2 separate regions of the Homo sapiens genome follow, and region 2 is linked to region 1. A link means that fine-mapping ties the variant in region 1 to the expression of a gene that starts in the linked region. Tissue or cell type: hippocampus. Region 1 holds a variant in brackets; the other region holds the start of a gene. All regions are shown on one strand. Distances are between the middles of the regions.

Region 1 (4,397 bases):
GCTGCCACATCCCAGTCTGATTCTGATGCTTGATTTGCCTCTTTAGTCTGTGTTTTTTCTTTTTAGTATGCCCTGAGTTTTTGTTTTTGTTTTTTTGAGCCAGACATGGTGTACTGTGTAAAGGAAACCGAGGTAAATATTCCTTTAGTGTGCAATTTTATATTTATCTAGGAAGGAGTTAGGCTGTGTTTACTGTTTGCTGTTGCTATAGGTATCCGAGGCTAAAATTTCTTCTAGTGCCCTTGTTTTCAACTCCCCTGTTGTCTTTGGTTTCCCTACAGATGTCTTCTAAAATAATCTGAGCCTTGCAGTTCTTTTTATCTGTAATCCTCTCTTATTATAAAAGTGTTCTATTGATACAGTGGTAAGGTATGGGGGAAAGCTAAATGTTTTGTAGTTCTATAACTGAGTCTCAGTCTTTTAATGGGCCTATGTTCCTGGGATGTAATCTTCACAAATGCTTCCTCATGCTTTTTTCACCGTCTTAGGTGGGATAGGAGGGGAACGGGGGCTGAGATTTTGTGTTTCCCTTCCCCCTCATTGGTTAGGCTCTGGTAAAACCCATCTTAGTTGATCTAAGTTTTCCTTAAGGAAATAACATAGTTTTCCTTTAGGATTTACCACTATTAATGAGACTGAAATGCTCCAAGTGTATTTCAAAATGATTACTTTCCTTCCCCTTGCTCAAATCAGGCAGGGTTTTCTCTCTGATCTTCACCTTGAGAATCTGGTAGTCTCTTGGAGTTGCAACTCATCATGTATCCCCATCACCACCACAGCTGGGCCCTGAGGGGTTTTTTCTCTACTGAAGTAGTCCATTCTCAGCCTCTAGGAATTAGTCCATCACCCTTTAAGTGTTTCTACTAGCTGGGGCTTTTGCTCAGTACACTCTGGTTCTCCATATCTTTCTCTTTCCAGCTTTTGAGTCAGTAATTGGTCTTGTCACCTCAATTTTCTGATGGATTTAAGAAGAGTCATTGATTTTCAGTTTTTTTAGCTTTCTTCTTCAGAGAACAGAGGTGATAACATGTAAGCTCTTTTGTGTCAGACCAGAAACCAGAAGTCTCCAGAAGCAAAATGAAGATGTGCTCCTTTGCTCACTTGGTGCCCACTGAATGCAGGGACCTGCACTCACTTGGAGACAGAGAGGGGCTCTTAGCTCTCCTGAGGCAGTTTAGCTGAAGACCATGTGAAATTTGGATGTAAGCTTGAAGCAATGAAATGTTGATACCATCCAACTTTGATGTTTCACTCTCTTGCTCTATGCTTTGAGTAAATGAGTCGATACAGGGTTCAAAGAAACTAAACAAGCCAAATAGTCAACTTTCATGGAGAAACACAATAAGTAAATGGGTGATCTTCCTTATAAGTGTGACCAACTTTTTTTCTAGAATTAACATACTGTGGGAGACTAGGAACTATCACATTCAATAAGTCAGAATATTCATGACAGATCACACAGTAAAGATAATTGTGTTTTCTGAATAATGAAGGCATCTATCAGCCTCACAAAGTGCTGGTTCAGATGCCTATGAAGTTGGAATTTTCTGTGTCACAGGAGGAAAACTTGGTGCTGTCTCTATCAACAGTGTCATTTCAAATTGATTCTAAGTCTTGGCTAAAAGTCAAGAGCACTCTGTCCATACAGTGAAAGAAAGCAGATAAAAAAGGTGTTCTTCTAATGGACAAATAATTTTCTTATCACTGTTATCAGAAAGCCATGGAAGCTGCTCGTGCCAAGGGAATACATAGATTATTTACCAGAGATAGATAGCTATCTTGCTTCATGGTTTTACATCAGTTGGGATAAAAGATCTGGACAACGTATTAACACTTGTCTTGGATTCACTCCAGTCTTCTATGTTGCAAGCATTTGAAAACAGAAGG[C/T]GAAGCAAATGTCTCCCAGGCAATGATAATCTCTATATTGAACTTTTCCTTCTGGAACATTTGGGACTGTCCTAGACAATAACAGCTATTATTGACTAAGTGCTTTTGTGAGCTGACTATTGTTCTACACACTTTTCAGGTTTTAACTTGTTTACCTCTCTAAATAATCCTGAGGTAGGCATTGCCATTGTTTCCATTTCATAAAAGATGAAATAGAGACTTCAGAAGGCTAGACAACCAGTGCAAGCTCATTGATGTGACAAGTAGCATGCCAATATCACTCTCTGCAGCCTGGTTCTAAACTTTTTTTGCAAAGAAATGCTTCTATATTTTGACACTTTCATCAATGAGGATGATCTCAGATCTAGAGTCTCACAGGTGCCATCTTGGAAGACAGCAAGGATCATGCTGGAAGAAGGGGCCCTGGGCTTGCTCTCTATCTGTTATTTACCATAGAAAGTCTTCTGCTCCTTAAAGCATAATAGTGGAGAATGACAGATGGCTGGCAGTGCCTAGCTGGCGTCTGTAGCTGTGACCTCAGAGGAAACACTTGTTCCTTTTTCTCTTTCAGAGGAAAGTTGAACAAAATGAGGAAAGACTCATTTTGCATTTCCCATTGATCCGATTTCAAATACTTAGGAATAAATCCTTAAAACACTACCTCTTTAACAGATAGTGTTTCCTGTATTAGTTTCCCAGGGCTGCTATAATGAAGCACTGCAAACTGGGTGGCTTAGAAGGACAGAAATGTTTGTCTCCCAGTTTTGGAGACTGGAAGTCTGAAATCAAGGTGTCAGTGGGGCCAGGCTCCCTCTGAAGGTTCTCGGGAAGAGTTCCTCCTTGAATCTTCCCAGGTTCTGGAGGCTGCTCATAATCCTTGGTGTTTCACAAACGATGGACACATGGCTCCAATTGCTGCCTGTTTATCACATAGCCTTCTCCCATGTGTCTTTGTTTCTGTTTTCTTTTCTTATAAGGACTGGAGTTAGGGCCCACCCTATTCCAGTGTGACTTCATCTTAACTAGATTACATCTGCAAAGATACTATTTCTAAATAAGTTTACATTCTGAGGTTCTGAGTGGACATGAATTTTAGGGAGGCACATTATATGGAAGCTGAGTAGTTAACTGAATTTGAAACTCCTCAGAAATTATGTGATAGAACAGAGCCAAAAGTCTGGGGTCCACTCTTTTTCTTGTTACTGAGCAGCCCTGAGGGCCACACATGAGCATACGTTGTGGTCTCTGGGGACTTAGCTGACAAACATTTGAAAACCAAACCCTGACATCTGTTACACGTGGAAGAAGCTGAGGGTAGTATGACAAAATGCCATTGGTTCATTTGGGCTAGGGTCGCAAGAGTTTTTCTAAAGGTTCAGTTTAAAGAGTAAGTTTGGTGAATTTCTATTCCGACATTAATCACCTAGAGAAAGTTGAAGATTTTATTTTAAAATCTAAGATATTTCAGATCATTTCAATGCTCAGAGATTGTTAACAATTAATATTCAGAAACGCTATTGTGTTGCCAAAAGCTGACTGATTTGTAACCTGTAGCTCTACATTAAAAAATACAGAATCCTCATGGGTTTATTTTCACATTCAGTTACCTGGTAAAGCATAACAAACATGAAAACAGAAGGTCTGTGGCTGAATTTCATTTGATTTTGCATTTGATTTGCGAGCCTACTTGATATTGCTGTGCCCCTTGTTATTGTCTTTAAATGTGAATTTGGCAGCGTTGATAATTTCCTAAATGTAACTCAAAGCTGCATGGCATCTGGCAATTAGGAGCGTGATGGTTCACACAAGTTCCAAAGACACCATGGTAATAGTTCTATATATAAAATTTCCACTTCCTGCATCTGCATGTTGGAGGACCAGATGCTGTATTTGAGGCATGTATTTTGCAGGATGTGGTGAACCCATCAGAGCTCAGTTCAGTGAAACAGCAGAGGTCCTCTTCTGACCTCTCTTTTTTACATTGTGGGTCCTGTAAGCACCAGCTTCATTACCAGGAGTTCGGTAAATCAATACACATGGTTTATTTCAAAGATACTACTAATGAGACAGAGCGAGGTGAAGGTTAAGGAAGAGAGCTCAGTCTCCCTTATTTGGATGTGAATTCTTGGGGCCAGCAGAAACACCAGCTGGAAACATACCAGGGAGCTTTATGCAATGGCTGGGGCACCCCCTCTTTTTCATCATTTAGGCTAGCAATGGGGGATAGAATGTCTGCAAGGGTTGGCGATGCTGATATTCATGTCCTCTTCTTCCTTCCCTCCTGCCTCCCTCTGCTTTCGCCAGACATTATGTACCCGGAAGCTTGCCAGCTGGCAGAAATGGTGGCTAACCAGCATGCTCGACCATTAGCAAGAAAAGTCTGCTCCCAAGAATATAAATGTGTATTTTGAAGGATTACCCACTGTCACAGGGTTATATGACCTTCTTAAAAGAGAAACAAACAATGATCTTGTATCTCTGCCTGCAAGGAAGAAAGAGGCAAGATAGTG
Region 2 (4,397 bases), 46 kb before region 1:
TCAAGAAGGGCTTCCCTGATGTTCTCTGACTGAGCAGGGTTCCCAGACACCAGGTCTTCTTCAGGGGATCTGCACACTTGTGTAGACTACACTGCACCTAAGTGTGCAGTATCTCACAGTATGCTTCACACCGAAGACAAGACTGATTTGGGTATTTATTATAACAACTTGCTGACAGATCTAAGTAAAGTGCCTTATGAAAGGGATGCTATTTTTAAATTTCATGCAAATTTGCTGCACTGGCTATCACTGTTTATTAAACACCTTTCCACATAACATTTGCCAGAGTTGGATGAATTTGTTATTAATTATTTATTAATTATTCCTAACATTAAAAAAATTTAGATCCCATGTGTCACACTAGCTTCACATCCTCTTTGAGAAGAGATTGTCTCTGTGTTGGTATTGTTGTATCCCCAGAGGGTGCCTTTTCTTCAGCCACTTGGGGATACTCTGCAATATCTGCTGAGTGAAGTGAGCTGAAGCCAGCTGCATCCCGGCTCAGCAAGACTCCATTGGCTGCACTGGGGTCTTAAGCTAATGAAGTTGCTCCCTCCAGCTCTGCACTCATTGCTGCACAACAATATCTGTTGTTGGAGCCACAAGAAAGGGAGTTAATTGCAATTTACTGGTGGGTTATCTAGTCTATCTAACAAAAATGTCAAAGCCACCCACTACCCAGGATGCTCCTTAGCATTGTAGCATTATCCAATAAAAATCTCCACATTTTCATCTTTAAAAGTGCTTTCCATGTACTTAGTTATAAGCATAGTGTTTGCATTGAGTAGAATGGCCAAGTATAACCACATGTGCTTTATATCAGTGTGTAACAGTATATAGCATTTTAGCAGTTTACTTTTCCTTTCTATTTTATGAGCTTTTATCTGATATTATGATAAAATTGCATACTCCTAAGAGCATGACTCCACAGAAGCAGCCATACTTCCTGGATTTAGAGACTCGAGTGGGTTCCCCTGGCAACCTGAGCCACCTGAGGGCTTCTCAATGCTCTGTTCATTTTGTCTTCCCTTTATTTTGGCCATTAATTTGGTAAACAAGAAAGGTAAGAGTGCTCAAATGAAATAAAACTACTGAGGCCCTTATGAGGTCTCAGCAGGTCTGATGTGTTACTGAAGGAGATGTGATCCTTCAATGACAGTTTGCAATCAGACTTAAAAGAACTCTAAGACTTGATAATAATTTTCAAAATTATTTGAAAGGGTTGAAGGGATATGGTTGAACAAAGGGAAGATTTCCTTATGCTCTTCATATTACACTGCTCAAAAGAGTTGTTCATCTCCAGGCGGCAAGACGCTGGTGGTCAAATCCCACTTTGGGGTCATGGCGTCTTGAAAGAGACAGGAACCCCCTTCTGCCCTCCGCTGATGGAGGGAAGGGCTGTATCAGTCATTAGTGTGTCCAGGTGTGGCATGGACATTAGCTGTGGGATGCAGTGGGGACCTGTGTTTGTCAGCCTGAGGCAGTGAATCCACTGGGGAAATTGAGGTGCCTAAACCCCCAGTCTCCCCCAGGCCTGTCTCCAGTACCCTGTGGAGAAGGGGAACTTCCCCACTCCCTTTCAGAACCTTCACCTCAGGGGCTGAGCCCTTGCTCCCTTTGTGTCTTGCCGGTCCCTTTGCCTGAGAAGAGAATGTCTCTCACTCAGCAGGATCTGACAGCTACCCTTGGACTAGCAGAGTTTTGCAAAGAAATGATGGTGACAGTTTATTTACGGACGCTCAGATTCGCGGCCGTATAATGGAGGCAGCCCTACTGTGAGGGAGAAGTGAGGAGAACGTGATGGCTGCAGGGATTAATGTAAAACAGAGACACTGTCACCTCCCTGGAGCACCACTGAGGCCCGGGTAAGGAGAGTGTTTTGCCCTTCTCAGATACTATCAGCAATTCAGGTAATACCCGTAAGGTGCAGTTTGTCTGCAGCCTGTCATCCCAGTTAGAGCAGACGGAATGGAAGAGAACGCAAGGAAATATTCTATTTATGTGTCTTTTAAGTCATTATTTTATGAACTGGTCTTATTCTAACTGGATCATTTTGTTACTTTCTTTGGATGGGCCATTCTAATAAGCGTAGTTCCTGACTGCGAACTATGCAGATAAGAAGTTCTAGACACAATATGAAAATCCAGGTGCATACTTGCACTAAATAGGCATGCTCCTCCTTTTTACTAAATCTAAATGGCTCAGTCTCAGGTCTTGGGGAAGGCTGCATGGCCGGGGACCAGGCGGTGTGCCGCTCGGGCAGTTAGTGGGCCGGGCGAGCCTGCGGGGCTGGAGGGGACGCGGGGCTGGGAGGCTGGGGAGCTGGGGGCTGACTCCGGGCGGGCGGGGCGGGGCAGGGACCTGCCGGCCTGGGGCGGGCGCACCAGACGAGCTCTCCGCCCGCAGGCCCCCAGCGCCCAGCCGCGTCCCGGCTGCGTCCCGCCGGTCCCGCCCCGCCCCGCCCCGCAGAGCCGCCGCCAGTAGTGGGAGACGTGCGCTGAGAGGCGGGGGCTGCGCTCGGCGGAACAGCAGCCCTCGGGCGGAGAGCGGGGCCGGGGTCCGAGAGCAGGTGATGCCAAGAGCTGAGCGGGACTCGTGAGCGCGCGGTTCAGCACCTACCAGGGCGTCCCGTAAAAAACCTCGCCTTCGCCTGTCTCTGGGAACCATAGGTAAGCTTTGGGCTTTCGAGGTGCAGTTCTAGGTAGAGCTCCGTGCTGGGAGGTGGGAAGGGGGCTTGACCCTGGGGACTCAGGCAGTCTGGGGACAGTTCCACCAGGGGCCGGTGCCTAGAATTGGTGAGGGAGGCACCTCAGGGGCTGGGGGAGAAGGAGCGAGCGCTCTTCGCCCCTCTCTGGCACCCAGCGGCGCGCCTGCTGGCCGGAAAGGCAGCGAGAAGTCCGTTCTCCCTGTCCTGCCCCCGGCGACTTGCGGCCCGGGTGGGAGTCCGCAGGCTCCGGGTCCCCAGCGCCGCTGGCCAGGGCGCGGGCAAAGTTTGCCTCTCCGCGTCCAGCCGGTTCTTTCGCTCCCGCAGCGCCGCAGGTGCCGCCTGTCCTCGCCTTCCTGCTGCAATCGCCCCACCATGGACTCCCCGATCCAGATCTTCCGCGGGGAGCCGGGCCCTACCTGCGCCCCGAGCGCCTGCCTGCCCCCCAACAGCAGCGCCTGGTTTCCCGGCTGGGCCGAGCCCGACAGCAACGGCAGCGCCGGCTCGGAGGACGCGCAGCTGGAGCCCGCGCACATCTCCCCGGCCATCCCGGTCATCATCACGGCGGTCTACTCCGTAGTGTTCGTCGTGGGCTTGGTGGGCAACTCGCTGGTCATGTTCGTGATCATCCGGTGAGCGCGGGGACAGCGCAGCGCTGGGGGCTGGGCGGGGCAGGGAGTGAGGGTCAGGCCCCGCCACTGGAGCAGCAGTGGGGGCAGCCAGCCAGGTGGTGGGGACTCTGTTCCGTGAAGGATCCTGGAAATGCTACAGGGTGGCTTCCTAGAAGAGGTGAAGGATTTTCTGGGAGTTTTTGGTGGAGTGCTGAGAGGTTCACACAGGCGAATCCGAGCGGCCAGGGGCGTCTGGAAGATTTCAGAGTAACCCCCCGACCCCACCCTAGGGCCCAGTGTTTCTGCTGAAAACTCTATGCGCAGGGCAAGGTGCCAGGGTGCTGACAACAGGGTCAGGGGTTCCTGGTAAAGGAACTAATCCATTTGCCTGCGCCAGTTTGGAGCACTTTGTTATGCCCTTTGCAAATATTTCTTAAGATAAATTTCAAGCCCACCCAATGCACTGAAGATAATTCCGAATTTCCTGGGACTCCTCAGACTGGTGTTTTGGCTTATGAAACAAAACCTGATATATGCTCTAGCGTTGTTGATATGCATATATGAGCCTTTTTAGTATCAAATGGCATCCCATTTGTTAGGAATATCAGTAAATAATATTTATCCTCTAAAACATGGCCTGTGGAGATTTTCAAAAACTACTTCGCTGTTTTTTTCACCATGAGAAATTGAAGGTTTTATTTGTGTGTGTGTGTGTGTGTGTGTGTGTGTGTGGAAATTTCTTCAAGTCAACTTCCAATAATAAGTATCCCAATATCCACATATATGCTAATTTTTTGGTAAGCAAAGTGATTCTGACTTTAAGAAAGAAAAACAAGAAAAGGAAAACCTAACTTTGTTCTGCACTTTTCTTAAGATAGATGTGTTTCCTTTTCTGGGAGCACTAGAGCTTTGTCAACACACCTGTGAGAGGGAGTAGGAAGCTTGTGTTCCTTTGAGAAGTCTCTATGAAATAAGGGCGGGATGCAAGTCACCCTGGCTAGGGACTCTGAAACGATGAATAGCTGATTTTTTTTAAGCTTGATTTTAGTTTTGAAACAGGCCATTTATTTATTATGAACTTT

Alleles and levels. Alleles are on the strand shown, and positions count from the first base shown. SD is a standard deviation of normalised expression in the study named.
For the expression in hippocampus of the gene that starts at base 2,480 in region 2, C is the high allele of the variant in region 1 and T is the other (small effect, 0.29 SD a copy in GTEx).

What was found. PIP is the estimated chance that this variant, and not a neighbour inherited with it, causes the effect. A credible set is the group of variants that fine-mapping cannot tell apart.
Region 2: OPRK1 starts here. The variant in region 1 is the best candidate, but not a certain one, in a credible set for the expression of OPRK1 in hippocampus (GTEx, PIP 0.77).

The regions. Positions count from the first base shown.
Region 1 is chr8:53,204,145-53,208,541 of GRCh38, reverse strand. The region is part of intron 1 of LOC105375836 (a long non-coding RNA gene); the gene reads right to left. Among named protein-coding and RNA genes, the nearest start is that of OPRK1, 45 kb to the left of the region's middle. The variant C/T (reference allele first, on the strand shown) is at 1,888.
Region 2 is chr8:53,249,720-53,254,116 of GRCh38, reverse strand. It overlaps OPRK1 (opioid receptor kappa 1), which reads left to right and starts at 2,480. Exons shown (of 4, transcript NM_000912.5): 1 at 2,480-2,669; 2 at 3,032-3,336. The coding sequence starts at 3,080.